3 linked regions of the Homo sapiens genome follow. The protein of the gene in region 1 purifies or fractionates together with the protein of each later gene. This does not show direct contact. Each region holds a gene or a part of one and is shown in the gene's direction. Other genes may lie near its edges.

Evidence for each region. The genes of interacting proteins can lie anywhere in the genome.
Region 2: the proteins of CSN1S1 (region 1) and ETV3 purify together in Homo sapiens (affinity purification with mass spectrometry; 2 studies listed by BioGRID and IntAct, with this or other methods). This does not show direct contact.
Region 3: the proteins of CSN1S1 (region 1) and FAM120A purify together in Homo sapiens (affinity purification with mass spectrometry; 2 studies listed by BioGRID and IntAct, with this or other methods). This does not show direct contact.

The regions. Positions count from the first base shown.
Region 1 is NC_000004.12:69,940,972-69,947,116, forward strand, and holds the end of CSN1S1 (alpha-S1-casein isoform 1 precursor), read left to right. Parts: intron 1-47; coding exon 48-89; intron 90-1,074; coding exon 1,075-1,092; intron 1,093-1,564; coding exon 1,565-1,606; intron 1,607-3,878; coding exon 3,879-4,033; intron 4,034-5,224; coding exon 5,225-5,225; 3' UTR 5,226-5,603; downstream 5,604-6,145. UniProt on the Homo sapiens protein: Important role in the capacity of milk to transport calcium phosphate. Casoxin D acts as opioid antagonist and has vasorelaxing activity mediated by bradykinin B1 receptors.
Region 2 is NC_000001.11:157,128,396-157,135,395, reverse strand, and holds part of ETV3 (ETS translocation variant 3), read left to right. Parts: intron 1-1,168; coding exon 1,169-1,284; coding exon of another isoform or gene 1,285-1,316; exon of another isoform or gene 1,317-2,251; intron 2,252-6,724; exon of another isoform or gene 6,725-7,000. UniProt on the Homo sapiens protein: Transcriptional repressor that contribute to growth arrest during terminal macrophage differentiation by repressing target genes involved in Ras-dependent proliferation. Represses MMP1 promoter activity.
Region 3 is NC_000009.12:93,510,685-93,517,684, forward strand, and holds part of FAM120A (constitutive coactivator of PPAR-gamma-like protein 1), read left to right. Parts: intron 1-4,982; coding exon 4,983-5,083; intron 5,084-5,298; coding exon 5,299-5,585; intron 5,586-7,000. UniProt on the Homo sapiens protein: Component of the oxidative stress-induced survival signaling. May regulate the activation of SRC family protein kinases. May act as a scaffolding protein enabling SRC family protein kinases to phosphorylate and activate PI3-kinase.

The DNA.
Region 1 (6,145 bases):
GACTGAATGACATCCAAGCAATTGAGAATATTTTTCTTTTTAAATAGGAACAGTTTTGTAGACTGAACGAATACAACCAACTTCAGCTGGTAATATTTTATTCATTATAATACAAAATCATATTCTACTATAGAATTAAAACATATTAAATTTTAAATTGGGGCCATTTCTAAATATATTTTTATTTTTCTTAAGAAATTATTTATTCTAGCCTTGACCAATAATTGGCAAGTTATTTGTATGATTGCCGGCATATTTGCGGGCAATGCTCATTCTCTTTATTCCTGGACTAAAGTTCTATATATTATCCATACTTACTAACCAGGGAGAAAGTGACTACATTCTACTGCAAATCCACTTTTAACCTCCCTGATGATACATTATGTCCTGGTTGAGAATTTCACAAATATGCTTACCTGTGAAATCACAGATATGTCAAATAAACTTTCCATTTAAGGAAACAGGATAGATTCTGGGAAAGGAAACAGGAATGCTAAACATCAGATTTGCTTCTGTCAAAACTCACATAATCTGCTTAACACTGGTTTTGACCCTTTTGAGTAACATAAAAGTCTTTCTTTTGGGAGGACAATAAAAACCTTTCAGTAACTACAAACAAATTTGACGTAATGAAGGCTTTGGGAAATGCTTGGTTTTAGTTCAGCAAAATTGCATGCTAGCATTTTTAATCGTTATCAATAGAGGAAGATGAAAATCAGTAATGAATTTAATATGGACCCTAATTGTTACTCTAGTTTCCATTTTCAGGTAACTTGTGTTTAAAATAGTATCCAAATAAATTTAAACACATTAGTACCCCAATAGAATTCATCATTATTGATCTAGAAAATTACCTGAATAATATATTTTAGTACCATAGATATGATATGGCTAGTCTGTAACCTCCACAACTGTTAGAACCTACTTGTCCTCCTGAGAGATTTTGTAGTATTTTACAGTGGTATCTCCAGTATTTAACATTGTCCCTGAACAAATGAAGGTACCCAGCAAATGTTTCTTATTAATGAGTAAATAAAATGAAAATACTAAAACAGAATGTTTTCTCCTCCCTAGCAAGCTGCCCATGCCCAGGTGAGATTATTTATTAAATCTAAAATATTTTAGTATTTCCTTCATGTGTTATGTTTTTATAATGCATGATTCTCTTTTAACATAAATATATTCTGAGAGAGTGTTCTACCAACACTATCTGATAATATTTTACTTAAAAGTCACAAAAGACAAAATTTAAATAATTAATAAATAGCCATAAATAGAAAAATATGTAGTCCTAGAGAAATGGTAGGTTATTATTTTTCCTCAGAGTATGAACCTTACTAATTGTTTATTTTTCCAAACTATAGTGAGCTTAGCCTTTAGCTAAAATTTTTTTCTGACATTAGAAAATAAAAAGTGTTTTGACATTTTTTGCTAACTGTGGCATAGAATACAGTCTATTCTAAATTTCATGAATGATGTTATGTATACTTCTGGTGCAATGTAAGATAAATGTGTTGTACCAGAAGATGTCTAAGTAATTTAGAATGTGTTTCCTTTTATGCAGGAGCAAATTCGCAGAATGAATGAAAACAGCCATGTCCAAGTGGTAATATTTTGCTTAATATATTACAAAACGATAATATTTTGTTAAGCTTAAATATGTTTGCTCTTAAATAGCCCCCTACTCTTGAAGAGATTTTTTTCTTCTCAAACATTTCTCACTCCCAACTTAAATCTCAGTTCTGACAACTTCTAAGCATATGACCTTGAGCACATTGTGTATTCTCTTGGACCTTTGGTTTCTCATTTGTGGAGAAAAACAATATGTGTCTATCAATTTATTTCCTCCTCCAAAACTCCCATGTCTTGATGTTTACAGTGACATATTGTGTCTTCACATTTAAAGATAATAACTGTATGTTTAATTCAGTGTCTCTTGTCCATTAATGATTCAATTTATGTACAACATGCTAATTAAAAAAAAAAAAACCATGTAAAGAAAGCCATGGAACATCCTCCACAACTAGAGAAAGAAACTTTTAGTTCCTCACAGTACATCAAATTTTACCCTCAGTTTTTTTTTTCTGAAATTCTGTAATCACTGTCACTGGCTAAAGTAAAAAGAAAATAAAGGCAAGTATTCTCTTCATTTGGGCCCCAAAGAATTACTTGGTCTTAATTTTCCATGTGAATATTATTATTATTATTATTATTATTATTATTATTATTATTAGACAGATTCTCACACTGTTGCTGAGCTGGAGTGCAGTGGCACAATCTCAGGTCCCTGCAACCTCTGCCTCCCGGGTTCTAGTGATGCTCATACCTTAGCATCCCAAAGTAGGTGGGATTACCGGCAAGCATCACGATGCCCAGCTAATTTTTGTATTTTTAGTAGAGACAGGTTTTCACCATGTTGGCCAGGTTGGTCTCAAACTCCTGACCTCAAGTGATCCACTCGCCTTGGCCTCCCAAAGTGCTGGGATTACAGGCATGACCTATTACTTCAATGTAATTATTTTTAAAAAAAGTGTGACAACTATATATGCATTTTTCATATTAATGAGGGTTTGGAGTAGCAATAATTTGCCCTATCCTCATGTTCAGTTGGATGTAAATTACTAAACTAGTGCCTTAGTTTGTTTTGTGCTGCTATAGCGGAATACCACAGACTAAGTAATTTATAATGAACAGAAATTTATTTGGTTAACAGTTGTGGAGGCTGTAAGTCCAAGATTGAGAGGCCAACATCTGTCAAGCTAGGGCCTTCTTGTTTCATCATCCCATGGTGGAAGAGCAAAAAAGAATACACAAGAGAGGGTCAAACTCAGTCAAAACAAACTCACCCTTGCAACAGTAAGCCCACTCCTATGATAATAGCATTAATTAATTTGTGAGAGCAGAGCCCTTGTGAACTAATCAGTTCTTCAAAGTCCCACTTCTCATCACTGTTGTATTGCATGTTAAGTTTCCAACATATGATCTTTGGGAAACACATTCAAATCATAGACACTTATTTCTGTCTGTCTGTCTGTCTCTCTCTCTCTCTCTCTCGGTCTCTCTATTAAGAACAGGGCCAGTTCTATCTTGAGGTAGTTACCTTATTTTATCTTAAAAAATTCTAGATTTTATATTTGTTTTAATCTTTACATAGGCAGGTGTCCACAGCAACATTTTAAATGCTTTTAAAGATTTTCCTAATTCCAGCAAAGAACTTCCACCTGAATATGTAGAGAATTATATGCAACTGTTTCTATGAACAATGCAATTATTAGTACACAGAAAAAATTAAGTGTAATCTCATTATGAATCAACAGAAGCAACTATTCCAAAATTATAGAAAGGAAAATAGTTTTGGCCCCAAAACTCTAGTGTTTGAAAAGAACAGTGGCCTAGGAATTAAAGAATTATTATTTTTTTCTGTTCCTGGCATTTCTGAAAGACAGCTATGTTGACCCTGGGTGCGGGGCCTGTACTTTGACCCCAGTGGCTTTAAGGAAAATTATATATCTAAATGGCAAAAATTCCCTTGAGTTTATAACGTAAATAATAATGAAATGTATGCTACTACTCTCTTCTGGGCTCTGATAAGTGGACCTGTGAGTAATGTGGGTTCTTGGAGTTCAGTTTTAAATAATGTCCTTAAAAAAAGTGATTTATTCATTGCCCCTCAGGTGTCTTAAAAGAGCACCTTCTGAAAGTTTCTTCAACATGGTTCACCATAGAAGATTTTGATTTATTCTTTTCCCTCACAGAGTAATCATTTTTTATCATGCTAACAGGCATCTTGGAAATGAATGAGATGTATTGATATTTTTCAGGGACTGAAAAAAGCAATTGCTCATACACTGTTGCTTTTCAAATGTTTTTCCCTCTAGCCTTTCCAGCAGCTCAACCAACTTGCTGCCTACCCCTATGCTGTTTGGTACTATCCACAAATCATGCAGTATGTTCCTTTCCCACCGTTTTCCGACATCTCCAATCCCACTGCTCATGAAAATTATGAAAAAAATAACGTCATGCTACAGTGGTGGTAAGTTCATTTAAATTACTACATCTTGATGTTCTACCAAAGGAATGAAATAGAATAGCTTGGAGAGGATACCATAAGAACAGATTTAGATTAAACATGGCAAATCAATGCCTACTGCAAAGGACTAATATGTTCTGAAATGGAAAATTGATAATATTTTGTGGGACCTGTGGCTAATATTATCAATTTCTTAGTAACATGTGGAACAGTATTATCTATTCTATAAGTGATATTTATTCTAATGAGCCTGGAAAATAACTTCTTTTCAAGTTAAAAATATAAAGACTTCTGACATGTAATTCAACATTATCCTTTTTGCGCTTTTACTAATCTTTAAATGACTTCCTTCTGGTTATACCTATGATAAGTATAAAAACACTGGGTAGGTAATATAGCACATATTTTGGTGTTCAGTAGTCCTAAATTCAAATCCTAACCTTTTTGCTTACTTGAAATTTTATAATAATCCTTATTTATTATAATCCTGAGGGTGATCAAATATAGTAATCTCTGTTAAGTATATTGTGGGCAAAATAAACACTGAATAGGTAAAAGTCCATTTTTTCCTGATTTAGCAAATCTTTATTAATGACTTCCTTTAATCACATGATTTTAACAATTTTCATTATTTCGGAAGAATTAAGTAAATTCTCAAGGAACTCCACAGTTAGGGCCCTTGGTAAGTTTGGAAATTATGTATCTAACCATTGATCTTATTTTTTATGGTCAAATAGACATCCTTAACAAGTCACATAGATAAATAAAGTGTTAGTCTGTCAACACCACTTAAAAAGGTCTATAAGTTCAATTATTTTCACCACTACATTGGAGCTTCCAATTGTGTGTTTGTGTGTGTGTGTTTCCTTTTCCAGTGGTGGAAACTTCCCTTCTAATACATTAAACCAAGGAAAATGACCAAATTTTAACCTATGTGAAAGCCTTTTATTCTAATTGCATTGCCATATCTTCAGTAATACCACAAAACAAAATACAATTTAGTAATAAAAATGTCTTTGTAGCTTAAAAACCAAGAGCAATGGATAGGTATGTCAGTAACAGGAAAGCATAAATAACATTGTGAGCTTGTCTAATACGAAGAGAAAATAGTAAAACGTGTTCTACCATAAGAGCTTTTCTTTTCTTCAAAAATATTTAATATAACTCACCACATATTTCTATTTCTATTTACAGATATGATTGAAAATTTCATTCTCTGAATTTCTCCTCTCAAGGAAAACCATCTTATCTGAAGACTGGACTGTTGTTTTAGAATAGTAAAATCCCATATTGAAGGAAATTGTTCTTTTTGAGTTATCTACTTAATAGCATATCATTCTTTTTCTTAAGCTAAATTTTCCTAGAGAGTTTATTGTCTAAATTTCAGTTGTGTCTTGCCATATGGAGGGCACCTAATCAGAGGGTATTAAAGTGTTTACTAAGTTTTCTAGTGGACATTTTGTTTAAAAAGTCTTTGAATTGCCAGTTCTGTAAGTGCCATCAATTAAAATAGTTTTGTGCAGTGACAGAGATTTTCTTTTTTCTTTTCAATAAATTACACTTTAAGGCAAAAGCCGTATTTTCCGTCATCATTCCATTCAACAGTATTTACATAATCATCTTAAGAGTCTTTGCATGTAACATTTGTTTTCATTAAATTAAAATCCATATTTTCTGTCATTATTCCATCACCAGTATTTACATAATCCTATTAATAGTGTCATGTATGTAACATTTTGTTTTCATTAATTTTTTATGACAATTTCAATCACATTTTAGTGAAGAATTGTAGAACTGTTCACTTCTGGATGGCACTAGCAGCCAGATCATAAAAGGCATTTATAAACTTGTCCAATATCTTTAATTTATAGTCAGTGGTTTGTAGAACATTTTCCATGAGGACATTGTCAGAGCTGCAGAGAGGAACAACAGTGTGGCAGTTGTGGGCACACTAGAGTTTGAGCAACCTGACTATACAGTTTACTTATGCCATCTGGACCTGTTTGAGTCCAATCCGGTTGATTATACCTAAGTTTATAGCTAGAGAAATAGATAATAGTCATTAAAAGATCAGCTCAGGAACACAGTAACCTGGTGTCCTTCAGAGCTGAAGTA
Region 2 (7,000 bases), on another chromosome or scaffold:
AGGGTATCAGGTAATAAAAGACTACACTATCTTAGTGAATAATGTGTCACTTTAAAGTGGGAGTAGAAGAGCTGTTGAATGTGAGTAGCATAGGCACAGGAGGAGAAAAGGCATATCTTTGGTTATACGTAGGAGGGGATTCCAATGTGGCTGGCACTGGATCCTGACAGACAGCTGATTCTGCTCTGTAGTGGGCGAGAGTATATGGTGAAACATGGATTGGAGTTCATTTATAATCCAAAGGATTAGTTTAGACTTCTCTATTAGAATCTGTTAGAATTTCTTTCTTTGGGCTTCCCTGAAAGAAACTTAGAAAAGGATGAAGCAAGTCACGGGAGGAAGATTCAGTGATACTGACCTATCTATTCCGGAACTGTGTCTGTGAGCTCAGGTTGTCCATAGCCTGCTGCAATATGTCTAAAGATTGATCACTATAAGTTTTCTCAGGTTCTTTTTTCCCCTTGTCGGTCTTACATTTCATAGTCCTTTAGCCCTCAAGGGGCTAGAAGGCAGTTTATGACCTCTGCTACTGCATAGATGTAAGACTAAAGGTTCCAGATAATTGAAGTTCTCCTGACCTGAAATGTAAACTCTGTACAGTGGCTTTGCTGTATTCTTTCACATCCCTTTGAGTCTTTGAAGGTGAGGCGGGCCACACTAGCTGCTGTTTTCCAGATCAGGGCATGCCATTGTTTGACCTGCCACCATAAAACAGTTGTACATTCCTTTGTCTGTCTTTTGAGCTTAGGCCTCCAGACTAACCACATCAGGTCTCCCTAGTGATTTGTCTGCCCCCACCTGGGCAAGACCAAAAAGAAAAACTAAGCAGTTAGTGACATGCAGTGCAACCGGACGGAAATGGACTGTAGAATCGAAATTGTAGAGAGATGGAGAAGAAAATGTTTGGGGCTAGGATAAGTGTTCAGAATCTTAAAGTGAAGTTGTCTTTGTAAACCTCTAGGCAAAAACGAGCTGAGTTGAAAATTGAGTAAGAAAATTAAGCTGTTAGGTCTCCTAGATCTACCTGGAGGGCCAGGCTGCGAAAGATTGGTAGTGATTTTTGTAAGTAATACTCAGAGCAAGAATTGTTGGTCTCAGTGGCTACCTAAGTGTATTGAAAGCTGTCAGTAGCTACAAGACGAATGGACATGTATTCCTGTTTTTACAGATACTATTACAACAAGAGGATCCTTCATAAAACAAAAGGGAAAAGATTTACCTATAAATTTAACTTCAACAAGCTGGTGATGCCCAACTACCCATTCATCAACATTCGGTCAAGTGGTAAGATACAAACTCTTTTGGTAGGGAATTAATTTTGAATTGAAAAGAATTTTTAAAAATCCAAATCTAAGACATGGCATGTTTAGGAAGATTTTAGAAACACTAAAATAATGTGATCCTTTGGATTGCCTCAATGTTCTTACTCAAGTCATCTCACTTATAAGGAGAGTTATAGGCTATTCAGTATCAAGATAGATTTCTTTGGTTTATTTGGTTGGTTCCCTTTTCTGCATATTGTTTGTAATCTCCTAGATACTATTACGCTATCTTGTTTGGGAATGATGTTTCATAGGTTTGTGATGATCTTTACGTTCAGGACTCAGTTTTAACACCCAGCCCAGTGGTTCTTTCATAGATGGGAACCTGTTTCTACAAACACTTCCGATTTTCTGTGAAACTACCAAGCTCTCCCTTATCAAGTGAATATCATCAAAACCACAGCATCCTTGATCAGAGAAGGGGGAGGTTCACATGTTTGCAGTGAAAAGCAGTGTCTTTGATCTGCAACAGCAAATCCTCAGAGAAAAAGATTCTGGGGTTACTTGACCTTCTCTCCTGTTAAGTGCAGTAGGGCTTCCCCTCTTGACTTTCCTGGTTATAGCTTTCCATCACAGCTCCCCACATTCTCTCTTGATGTTGAAAGCAGTCTCTCAAAAGACTTTGTTGTTGTGTGGTTTTTTGTTTGTGATTTTTTTCCTTATGCAAATCATACTCCTGCCCAAGAAAATACAGTAGTTCCCCTTATCTGAGCAGTATATGTTCTAAGACCCCTAGTAGATTCGCAAACCACAGATAGTACCAAACTCCATTCATATATATGATGTTTTTTCTTCCCTTAACCCCACTCATATGTATCTGTGATAACGTTTAATTTATAAATTAGGCACAGTAAGAGATTAATGACAATAATAAAATAGAAAAATTATAACAATATGCTGTAATAAACTTAATGTGGTCTTTCTCAAAATATCTTTGTGTACTGTACAGACCTATTTTCAGACCTTTGTGGGTAACTAAAACAGTGGAAAGCAAAACCTCAGATAAGAAAGGACTACTGTAGATTGTATTTAACTGTTTTCTGACCAGTCCATCAGTAAGTACTCTGTCATTGTGGCCTTGTATGCTAAGGCAAAGAATGCTGATCATGCAGTAATACAACTTCTCAGAAAAGCTGGAAGAAACCTGAAAAATTAGTGGGGGTGTGGTTGAGAGAACATAATGTTGAGATCCATTGCAGATATGTAATTACTACACAACAAGTTAGGGCAGTTTTAGCTTGACTCTGCTATCATTACAGTTTCATCTCAACTTCTGTAACCACTCCCTCCTGTCCCTGGGGCATGCATTTAAAAAAAAAAAAAAAAGTGGTATTGGAATGCATCTCTCTAATTACAACCTGTTTTCTTTCCTTGTGCCTGAGGGAGAGGCGTTAGGAAATCAGACCTGTACTCGCCACTCAAATCTTGCTTCCTCTGTTTCTCACTCTTGCCCCTTCCTTGTATGCCTAGAGGAATTGGGAATCTAGATGTATATACCAACAATTTTAAAGAATTTGTTGGTTTTCATACCCCTTCACCCCACTCCCAAAAAAATGTTTCATTCGTCTTGTTCTTCTGTCTTTGACCCATTTTTATCTATTGAAAATCCAGAACTTCAGCCACTTGGACAACCTAGAATGGGGCATTCATAAGCCCTGGGAAGTAATGTGGTTTTCCAGGGCAAGGAAACCTGGATCCTCACTCTGTGAAGAATCTGATCTAGAAACCTAACAATAGTGGCCCAGCACACCTGTTCTGCCCGAAGGCGATTGAACCAACATTGATCTTTAACCCAAGCTCAAGATCCTAATCAAAAAGCCACAAGGGGCCGGGCCAGGTGGCTCATGCCTATAATCCCAACACTTTGGGAGGCCAAGGCCGGCAGATCACTTGAGGTCAGGAGTTCAAGACCAGCCTGGCCAACATGGGGAAACCCCCATGTCTACTAAAAGTACAGGTGGCAGTCACCTGTAGTCCTAGCTACTCAGGAGGCCAAGGCAGGAGAATCACTTGAACCTGGGAGGCAGAGGTCGCAGTGAGCTGAGATCATGCCACTACACTCCAGCCTGGGCGACAGCGAGACTCAGTCTCAATAAAGCACAAGGAAAGCAAAACTGTGTACATTTCTTTTAGTACATCTATCTCTACTACCTGGTTGCTCACATCCTAGGTATAGACAACTGCAAAGAACTGGTGTCATTAGTTTTTAAAGAACTTTTGACCAGAGAGGCCAAATGTTGTTTAAGGTAACTTTATGATAACAAAGGAATGTAACATTTATTGAACATCTGCTTTATGGAGGTACTTTTGCTTAGTAGTTTTGTGAATTACGTTATTCAACTTTTCAGCCCAGTGAAGTGAATGTCTTGATATCCACATTTTACAAATGATAAAATTAGGAAAACGACAGCAAAGTTAAAGACTGATCAGGGTAGGTTGAATAGTTATCTATTGAACAGTTTCTAGGGAAACAATTCCTGAGAGATCGAGCTGTTGAAGTCTAGCCCTTATTTAATAGATCATACATTCCTCCTCTAGGTTGTGATTCATTTGTTCAACAGATAATGGGAGTTCTTTACCTCACGGAACTTACAGTTTAGCAGGAGAGATAAGATATGCCGGGTTTAATACAATGTGAAATGTGATAAGTACTCTAAATAGAGCTGTGTGGATTTAGATCCTGGAGGCCATTGAGATCATGTCCACAAGGTGGGTTGAGACAGTTGGGGTATTCTGGTCTGTGTATTTTATCATGAAAAGCATCCTGTATAACACATTATTAAAATATTTTCTTATATTTGCATAAGAAACATTGGAAAGATACAGAAGATACTGTCAGGATGGGGCAGGACAGACCAGTTCAGGGATGGACTTGATACCGCTCAGTCTATGCCTCTCTACTCCCACCAACCCCAGTTTTTTAATTTTTATTTGGGAAAACTCGAAACCTACAGGAATACTGGAAGAAGGACAGTAAACACCCATATATCCTTTATCTAGATTCACTAATGGTTAATATTGTAGCCACATTTGCTTTATCTCTTTCTATTTATATATACTTTTTAAATCTTTTGAGATTAAGTTGCAGACATCATGACATTTCGTCCCTGTGTACTTCAGCTTGTATTTCCCAGGAACAAGGACATTCTCCTCCATAACCACAATAACATTACCACACCCAGGATGTTTAACATTGATATAATTCTGTTATCTAATACATAGTCCGTATTCGAATGACAGTTGTCTTTTTAGGGTTTAAATTTTGTACCATGATTAATAAAAAAATTATTTAACAATGACATGCAATTTGCTATGCTTGGTACTATTCTAAGGGCTTTACAAATATTAACTGTTAATCGTCATAACAATAGGCCCTGTGCTGACCTATTTTACAGGTAAGGAAACTGAGGCACAGAGAGGCAAGCTGTCCAGAGGCACATAACTAGTAAGTGGTAGGACCAAGATTGGAACCTAGGCAAGGACCTTATGAATTCCATTTTGCCAGAGGGGGTCAAAGATTCCAGTGTGCTACTTGTACTAGGCTACAAGGTGGAAGCTGCCAGAACTGAGATTCAGACCCAGTTTTTTCAACCCCAGTACTTGAATTTCATGGTGACTTCATGGAGGTGGACTTCTAAAGCAATGGTATTCAAACTTTCTTTTTTAGCAGCAAACTTTTTTTCTAAGCAAAATCTTAGGTTTGATATCTCAACATATAAAAGTAGGGCTACTTCAGTTAATCAGAGATAAGGGTTCCAGAATGCTAGAAGCAATGCTTCCCAGTATTGCTTCTAGTCTCACCTCCCATTACTCCACCTAAATACATCAGGAAAATACTGCTTATTATGTCTCCTTTACAGTATACCTTAACGTATGTAAAGACTGAGATATCCTCCAGTTTATTTTTCTTTTTTAATAAAAAACTAGATTTTGGGCCGGCACAGTGGCTCACGCCTGTAATCCCAGCACTTTGGGAGGCGGAGGTGGGCGGATCACGAGGTCAGGTGTTCAAGACCAGCCTGACCAATATGGTGAAACCCTGTCTCTACTAAAAATACAAAAATCAGCCAGTCATGGTGGTGCGCACCTGTAGTCCCAGCTACTTGAGAGGCTGAGGCAGAAGAATTGCTTGAACCTGGGAGGCGGAGGTTGCAGTGAGCTGAGATGGTGCCACTGCACTCCAGCCTGGGCGACAGCAAGATTCTGTCTCCAAAAAAAAAACAAAACAAAACTAGATTTAACCAAGCATTTCTAAGTTGCTTAGGAGACAAGACCTTTCCCTGCACATTATACTTCCTTCTTCTGAATACATAGAAGTGGCTTTTTGCTTTTGAGTAGATGTACTCTTAATTGAAAGTCAAGATCCAAAAGAATCAAAAAGGGTAGAATTGTAGCCACTGTAATAAGCTAGTAGAAGAATACATTTGGCCTGGGACCCTCTTGGCTCTACTCAAATCATTTGCAAGGTCATCCATCTGTTCTTCCTAATTTTAAAATTAAATCAGTGGCTTTATTTTTTTTCCAGTCTGTGATTTTGTTTTTAATTATCTTAAGTCTTATAATCATGCATAATTTTTAAATTTGTTTATATTTCCTCTACTTAATTCCTTTTAAATTGGCAAAAGCACCATTTCCAATCACAAATACACAGCAGTTCTACAGTGTTATGTTTCTGAATGGCTGTTTAGAGGCAATCCCAAATTATAACTTAGTCTGAATTAGATGGTAAAGAATTCAAGAGTGAAGTTTAACTTGCTACTATTTTTAAAGCATCTGATCCTATAGATCACCTATAAAATGTGAGAAGTGTTAAATCTTTATTTGATATTACACATAAACCCACTAAAATGCCTTTCAATAAGTAAAAGAAATCACTTTAGATACAGATTTCTAATTAAATTGGCTATTATTGTTAAAACCAAAAATATAAAGTAGACATTGCTGCCTTATCTTCAGCCCTTGCCTTTAAGAGGCAAATGAACATAAAACACTGGTGAATCTTGCTTGGTTCTAAGACAGTGAAGGACTTTCCCCAGTATTTAAATATATTCACATAACTAGTTATGTAAATCTAAATATAAAACCATTCTCCATTAAGTTTTAAGATGGCATTCATCATCTTTGTGAAAAGTTGAACATTACTAATGAAGTCCAGTCATATATTTAGAAGGGGTAAACAGTGATAGATAGCATTTACTAAATCGGAATTACCGTTAAAATTCCAAAAGCCAAACATATTCATCTAATCTCAAGTCAGTCTTAATTAAATCAGGACTGCCCAACAAAAATCTGTCAGTCATTCATGATCTGGATTCTGGTTTATGAGATCTGTTAAATTATGGTACACATAAAAAAGTCATGAGGCATTTCTGTTTTGCAATAAATAAGGCAGTGTCCAATTATTATCCATTAGTAGCTTTTTTGAGATAATCTATCAAGTCTGCCCTTTTCTGCCTTAATGTCGGCAAAGATCATTTTTGTTCCAAGGATGTACTTCTTGGGATTCTCCAAATACTCCATCGGTATCCTCTCCCCAGGTAATGCCTTTGTTCTTATTGGCATCTGTGTAAGAGAATCCAGTGGCCTGACCTGTCTTCCACCCAAAGAGACATGGAGATTAGGCCCAGTCTCGTGCTTGCCTCCCTTTTCCACAGTGTGGCACTGGGCACACTTCTGAA
Region 3 (7,000 bases), on another chromosome or scaffold:
CTGGCCTGGTCTGAACTGCCTCAGCCCCCAGTGTCGGGATTGTAGTCATGAGCCACCGTAACCAGCCTTGATGAGATGTAATGTTCCTATTCTGCCTTCTTGAACTTTGCTCAGTCAGTACAAGTATTCTGTTCAAACTGATTAATTAAACCCAGGAACTGAATACATTTAGATAAAACTTGCTACTTGAGACTGGGGCACTGGGTAGATTCGAATGATGCCGTATCTCGTGATGTCTACCCTCTCACTATCCACATTCAGGGATGGAAAGGATTTGGGGAGTGAGGAATGTTTATAGAAGTTCAGCCCAGCTCCCTGCTGTAGAATGTTCTTGTATGAGCAGTCCAGCAGTCAGTAAAGCAACCCTTTTCATTGTTGAACTGCTCTCATTCTTAGAAAGTTCTTGTTTCTGTTGACTTGAAATTTGCTTCCGTGGTTTAATTTTTCCCGCTGTTCCGAATTCTTTCACGTGCCACGCAGGATGTGCCTGTTCACTGAGTTCATAATCTTACTTCTCATGGGCCTTGTACTTAGCCTTCTTCAAGCTGATCATGCCTCAGGTTTTGCCTCCTTCTGTCACCAGGCCTCCTCTTCTGGGCGCCGGCCTCTGGCTCTTCCCTTGGGGTCTGGCCAACACCGCAGGCTTTGGGCCAGCATCAGCTGCTCCCAGGCTCTTAGCTCTTGGGAGTTGCTCCTCCATCCTTTGCCTCCCTGGGCACTGACATTGCACCTGGTCTCAGTCCAGGCTTGGCCAGCCTGACCGGCTCTGTGGGGCCTCCTCTCCCTATAGGATGGCCAGACGCCGCGCCCTCCCACTGTGCTCCAAGGCCCCACCCTGCCTCTCTGGACACTGGATCTGTAGTGTAACGGGAACAGGTCACATGACAGTTTCCTTTCTATAACTTTTTATCTTCTGTAGACTATTGAGATTTAGTAAACATGTCTGTTTGCACATGCTTAAAATGGTTGGAATGTTTTGCCTTGTCTGTGTTTGCAAGCGATGAAAATTAAAGGTGGTAGGGATTATATTGATTTGTTTAATCTTGGACTCGACATCTTCAAAGCTATATTTTTTGGGTGATACTTGAAAATCATACAATGTCTGCCTGTTTATTTATTTATTTATGAGATGGAGTCTCATTCTGTCACCCAGGCCAGAGTGCAGTGGCACGATCTCTGCTGATTACAGCCTCTGCCTCCAGGGTTCAAGCGATTTTCAGCCTCTGCCTCCCGAGTAGCTGGGGTTATAGGCGCCTGCCACCATGCCTGGCTAATTTTTTTATTTTTAGTAGAGACGGGCTTTCGCCATGTTGGTCAGGCTGATCTTGAACTCCTGACCTCAAGTGATTCGCCTGCCTTGGCCTCCCAAAGTGGTGGGATTACAGGCATGAGCCACTGAACCAGGCCAGTTTTTTGTTTTGTTTTGTTTTTTGTTTTTTAAGACTTAACTTTGTTACTCTTTGTTTTGTTTAACATTTCAGGATCATATGCCAAGTAATAGAGGAACATTTGTTAGGTTGGGCTAGGAATGGGGACTGGGGTAAGGCCGACTGTAGTTCTAAGAAGAGGTTCCAGTTTAACACCATTTCTTTAAAGAATTTTACCGTATTTTAATTCAGAGCAAAAGCCACACAGCTGCATATAGGCGTAAGTGAGTCCTTTGAGGAAGTAGGTGACTGAGCTGTAACAAGTCAAGATCATACAGCCGAGGGATTGCAGTGCATGTCTCTTTTCATTCTGAAAGAACTTCTCACTATTTAAAAACTATTTTTAAAGTTACGAAATATTTTGAAATATAGTAAACTTTTTTGGCCTTTTTTTCTTCTTTTGCTTCTTGTCTTCAGTCTGCATATTTTTTTTTTTACCGAAAGCCCACCTCTCTAGTAAGTGTGAAAGGAAGAGAGTGAGAAACTGGTGGTGTGACCTCTACTCTGGAGCCCCGTGTCCCTTCTGAGAAAGATGCCTCTTGTTGTAGAGAGGACACACAGTGGTTCTGCTCAGCTGCACTTGGGCATGGAGAACAAGAACCGATATAGACGAAGGCCTGAATCCGCAGAGGGAGACCCTGGGTTAGGAGGCACTTCTGCAGCCTTCAGAAAATGCAGACAAATTAATTCACTTATTGGACTGCTTTAATAGAATAGTGGCTTGCTCTGTGGATTCACAGAGGATTATTTGAGGTCAATGATTGGAATGTGATTTTAGAAAATATTCTTTCCTTGGAATTCTTTGGTTTTATGCTGTAATGTAGTTTGTTTGTTTGCTTTAAAGGAAAGTTTGTGCTTTCAAGGAAGGTTTTAGGATGAAATGGCCAAAAATCAAAAAACAAAAATGATCATCTTCACTTGAATGCGGGTGCTACATGAGTCTAGCCTTAGATTTGTATTATTCCAAAGTTAGGTAAGTGAGGTCAGCCACAAGATATTATACACTAGACATTTTACATTGATTTAAATTATATGGTTGGAGCTTGAATAGATTTTATAATATTCTTTGGACCAAACCTGCCTATCAGAATCACCTGTGAACAGTTTTTTAAAATAATAGCGACTTTGATCGCACACGTGGAGGTGCAGATCTAGCCAACATACTGTTTTAGGAACAGCTCCTTGTATTGTCTGTGCCATGCGTGTGTGTGCGCCATGCATGCACGTGTGGGGTGTGTTTGTGTGCACTTCTGTGTGTATCTACGCCTGTGTGTGAGTGACCACTTGATCATGCACACACATCCCTTAGAGGCACGGACTTGTGGACTTATCGGTCAGTTAGGAATGTGTTGTGTGCACGTGTGTCTATGTGCGTGTTGCATGCAAGTGTGAGGTGTCTGTGACTACACACATGCCAGTCTCATTATTCCCAGCTTCTCATACTGCAGTTGTTTTTGTTTGGTACAAAGGTGGAAGCTCTGCCAAGGTTTTTTCTTGATGCGAGCCAGGATCGAAGGGCTATGGTGTTTAAAGCTTGCGAGCTGAAGGCCCTTGGAAGGCAGGAACCTCAGATAAATTGTAGTCTGTAAGATTCCTGGTCGTTCTCTGGGGGGAGTCAACAATGATCTGTGCTTCACTCCCAGCGTCTGTTGACCATGCTTGGCTCTCAGGAGGCCGGACCAAGGACAGCGTTTGCACTCCTGGTCTCACCACGCCCAGTGTTGGCTTAGGGAACCTCTTGTGAATGCAGCCATGGACATTTGCTTTTCAGAGAACGAGAGTGAAGGTTTGGGGAATGTTTCTGTCCTTACCTATATTGGCAGTAGGCAGTGTGAGAGGTGGTGGTTCTTGGGTTGTGTTCCCCTTGCCTGGTGTTTTCCTCTGATTTCATACTGCTATAAAGAACTGCCTGAGACTGGATAATTTATGAAGGAAAGAGGTTTAATTGACTCACAGTTCAGCATGGCTGGGGAGGCCTCAGGAAACTTAGCATCATGGCAGAAGTTGAAGGGGAAGCAAGGCACCTTCTTAACAAGGCAGCGGTAAGAAGTGTCGAGTGAAGGGGGAAGAGCCCCTTATACAACCATCAGATCTTGTGAGAACTCATTCACTATCATTAGAAGAACATGGGAGAAACTGCCCCTATGATCCAATTACCTCCACCTAGTCTCTCTGCCTAGACACGTGGGGATTATGGGGATTATAATTCAAGATGAGATTTGGGTGGGGATGTGCAGCCTAACCATATCAACTGGTGTTCAGATGAAGAGGTTGTAGAAGCATATCTACTGCTTAAAGAGGGAAATTGGAGTCAGCAAGCTCTGGGCTTGGTTTTCTTCCACATTTAAAACAAACCCAAGGAAGAGATGGTGCAGCCGTGCAAGCCCCTGGTGGATCTGTTGTGTCTCACACAGGTTTTCTATTTTCTCTGTGTCTTCAGCAGTGTGCATCTTACTTAAACCGCCTCAGGGCTCCTTTCATCCCCAGGCCCAGTCCTCAGCTTGACACATCATAGGCCCTCAGCACCTAAGTGTTCTGAGAGGGAGTGCAGCTCCTAGAGGTCCATGTCCCATGTCCTCCTGCTTCCTGCATATCATTTGGGCCCCAGTCGGTCCTTGTTACTGCGGGTCTTGTGCTGTCTCTGGAACAGCCCTTTATGGGCACCATCTACTCACTCATTCACTTCTGTTGGCTGACGTGGCCCCTGAGCTCTCTTCCTGTGCTTAGTTAGGCCGCGCGAGGCCAGAGGTTGAGTGGGGAGGCTTCCAGCCCCTGCCTTCTGTCCCAGCTTCAGGCTGGCCTGGTTCCATGTCCTGCTGTCCTGCTTCAGCCATTCCTCTATGTGGCTTTCAGTCCTCTCACAGATTTCTTCATTTTTGCAAGGTAGCGTGGGAATGATGACTAGCACATGGCAGCACACATCAGGCAGGTTTATGAAATTATGTTTTAAGAGAACACAGAATCACAAATTACTCATCCTGTATATGTGTTAAAATGTGTAACCTAATTGCTGAACAATGAAAAGCAATTCCTTTTATATTTAAAAACTCACTAGTTAGCTGAGAACCTAATGGTAGTTGCAATGTACTTTAAATAGAAAAGTCCTCTTGCTTGACAAAGGTAAAGGAAACTGTTCGGTCCGACTTTGTTCCTTTCATGCCTGCCAGGGCTTCTGGTTTCACGGAGACCTCAGGCTAGGAGCAGCCCTGAGCAGGGAGACTGAGTTACAGAGAATCCCCACCAAGTTGCAGGCAGAGGGACAGCCGAGGCCCTCAGGAAGTACACGAGAGCAGAACCACTATGGCAAGTTCACTGAGAAATCTGGAAAGTTAGAATCCCAGCCCGAGTCCATCAAATGGAGCATCATAAAATTAAGTTTTCCTTACTGTGAAATGGCAATTTGTAATGATTTCTGAGAAGTGGGACCCATGGTGGTGTCGATGTCTGAGCCAGGTGAGGGTGAGATCCCTGGCGCCATGGGCTGGCCCCCAGGATGCCCTGGAAAACGCATTCTGTTCACAGCTGTGTGATTCTTTTCTTTCTGTGTTGGTGAAGCAGCCAGACCCGGTCCGTTTGGAATGCCTGGGATGGTGCCGCCGCATGTTCCTCCTCAGATGCTCAACATTCCGCAGACCTCTCTGCAAGCAAAGCCCGTGGTAAGGCCTTCCCTGCGTTGGGTCGGGTGGCGGGTCTCAGACAGGGTGCGTGCATTGAATTTCAACGAATGCTAAAATAAGTTCCTAACCTCTTGAATTGATACGTGAAATAGATGCCAGTGTTTGTTGAAATAAAAATGAGCCAGGAAACGTCAGCCTGGGCCTGAGTCGGGTCCTGCTGGCCACGTGTGCGTGACCTGTGCCCTTCGCTTCAGGCCCCACAGGTGCCCAGCCCAGGGGGCGCCCCGGGCCAGGGTCCATACCCGTACAGCCTCTCTGAGCCAGCACCTCTCACTTTGGACACGAGCGGGAAGAATCTGACGGAGCAGAACAGCTACAGCAACATTCCTCACGAAGGGAAGCACACGCCGCTGTATGAGCGGTCCTCGCCCATCAACCCGGCCCAGAGCGGCAGCCCCAACCACGTGGATTCCGCCTACTTCCCTGGCTCTTCTACATCGTCATCTTCCGACAACGACGAGGGCAGCGGAGGGGCGACAAAGTGAGTGGTGCGTGGGTCGCTGGGTGCTTCCTGGCGGGTAGTGACCTGGGGAAGCTGCCTTCTGGCCTGCCAGCCCAGCTGGTGTTTTGCTCAGAGATGTAGTTTATTGCAGGTGGGTGATGGTCAGTCTGTACTCAGATGGGGGCTCCTTGGACAGAGAGGAGAGAGGAAGAGTAGGTATGTTCTTGAAGTTTCCATGATTTAAAATCTGCACTATCCCAGCCCCATGGCCTGGAGCCACAGGAAACTTTCTGGGGAGGAATTTGACAAGAACTGGTTTGTGTGATGACCAAAACATGGGGGCATTTGTCCGGTGTGGTGCCACTCACACCCGTCACAGCAACCCCCTGCCGACCCCCGAAACATTAATCTTCTGGCTCCTGGATCAAGGGAGCTCTGAATTTCCTCTCCTTCTCCTAAACTCAGCAGGTTACAGGACACTTTGGAAATAACACTGTTTGCCCAAGCAAAACCCTAGAAAGCTGCCTAGACCCAGGCTGGAATTGTTTCCTTAGAGGAGTATTTTAAACACTGTGTGTCCCTGAATAAATGGGTTCACAAATACATAGTTGGTTAAAATTTGATCGAGGAAATCTTTAATTTGCACTCCTCCCTTTCTTTAAATTGTCTTATGTTTAAAACAAAAAAAACAGGGAAAGAATATTTCTTTTCTTTAAGTCAGTGTCTCCTTTTCCTTGGTGTGAACTCTACTTTACAGCGCAGATAACCAGGGCTGGTTGATGTTACATCTGTTTCTGATGTAGGAAATGTAAGAGACATAGGTGTCAGCTTCCATGCCAGTTCTTACCTTGTGTGTCACCTGAAGCAGGTGATCTTTTCCTCTCTGTCCTCTGTCCATCTGTGAAATGGGAATAAATGTCTGTTGACCCAGGGCAGAGCTTACTGAAGGACTCTCTGCCATCCAGGGATGCATACCCTGTTTATAGCAGAGAAGTATAACATTAATAAATGTTGATTTGTTGTATGTGCAGAGAAGTATAAAATTAATAAATGTTTATTTGCTGTATATGCAATGCCAAGACTCTAAAATGAAGTAAAGAGTTGCAATTGAATATTCAAATTTTTAAATTAACCTCTAGCAAGATAATATATTGAGTACCCATTGAATCAGAATCTCTGGTTGGGGCCCCCAAATTTGCATTTTAAATAAGCACCTCAGTCAGTCTTTAGCACACTGAAGTTTGAGAACAACTGCTTGATGGTCTTGGAAGCCCTTATGTGCCAGATTTCTAAGGCATGTGCATTTTGTTGTAAAACGTGACTCATGTCAGCAAGGTCCAAGTGTCTGTACAATACAGTTTTTGTCTTAGTAAGAAATGTTCTTTCTAAACTGTGAAACATAGGTAAGAAGTAAGACAAAAAGCAAAAGAAGTAAGCTTTATGACCCCAACAAG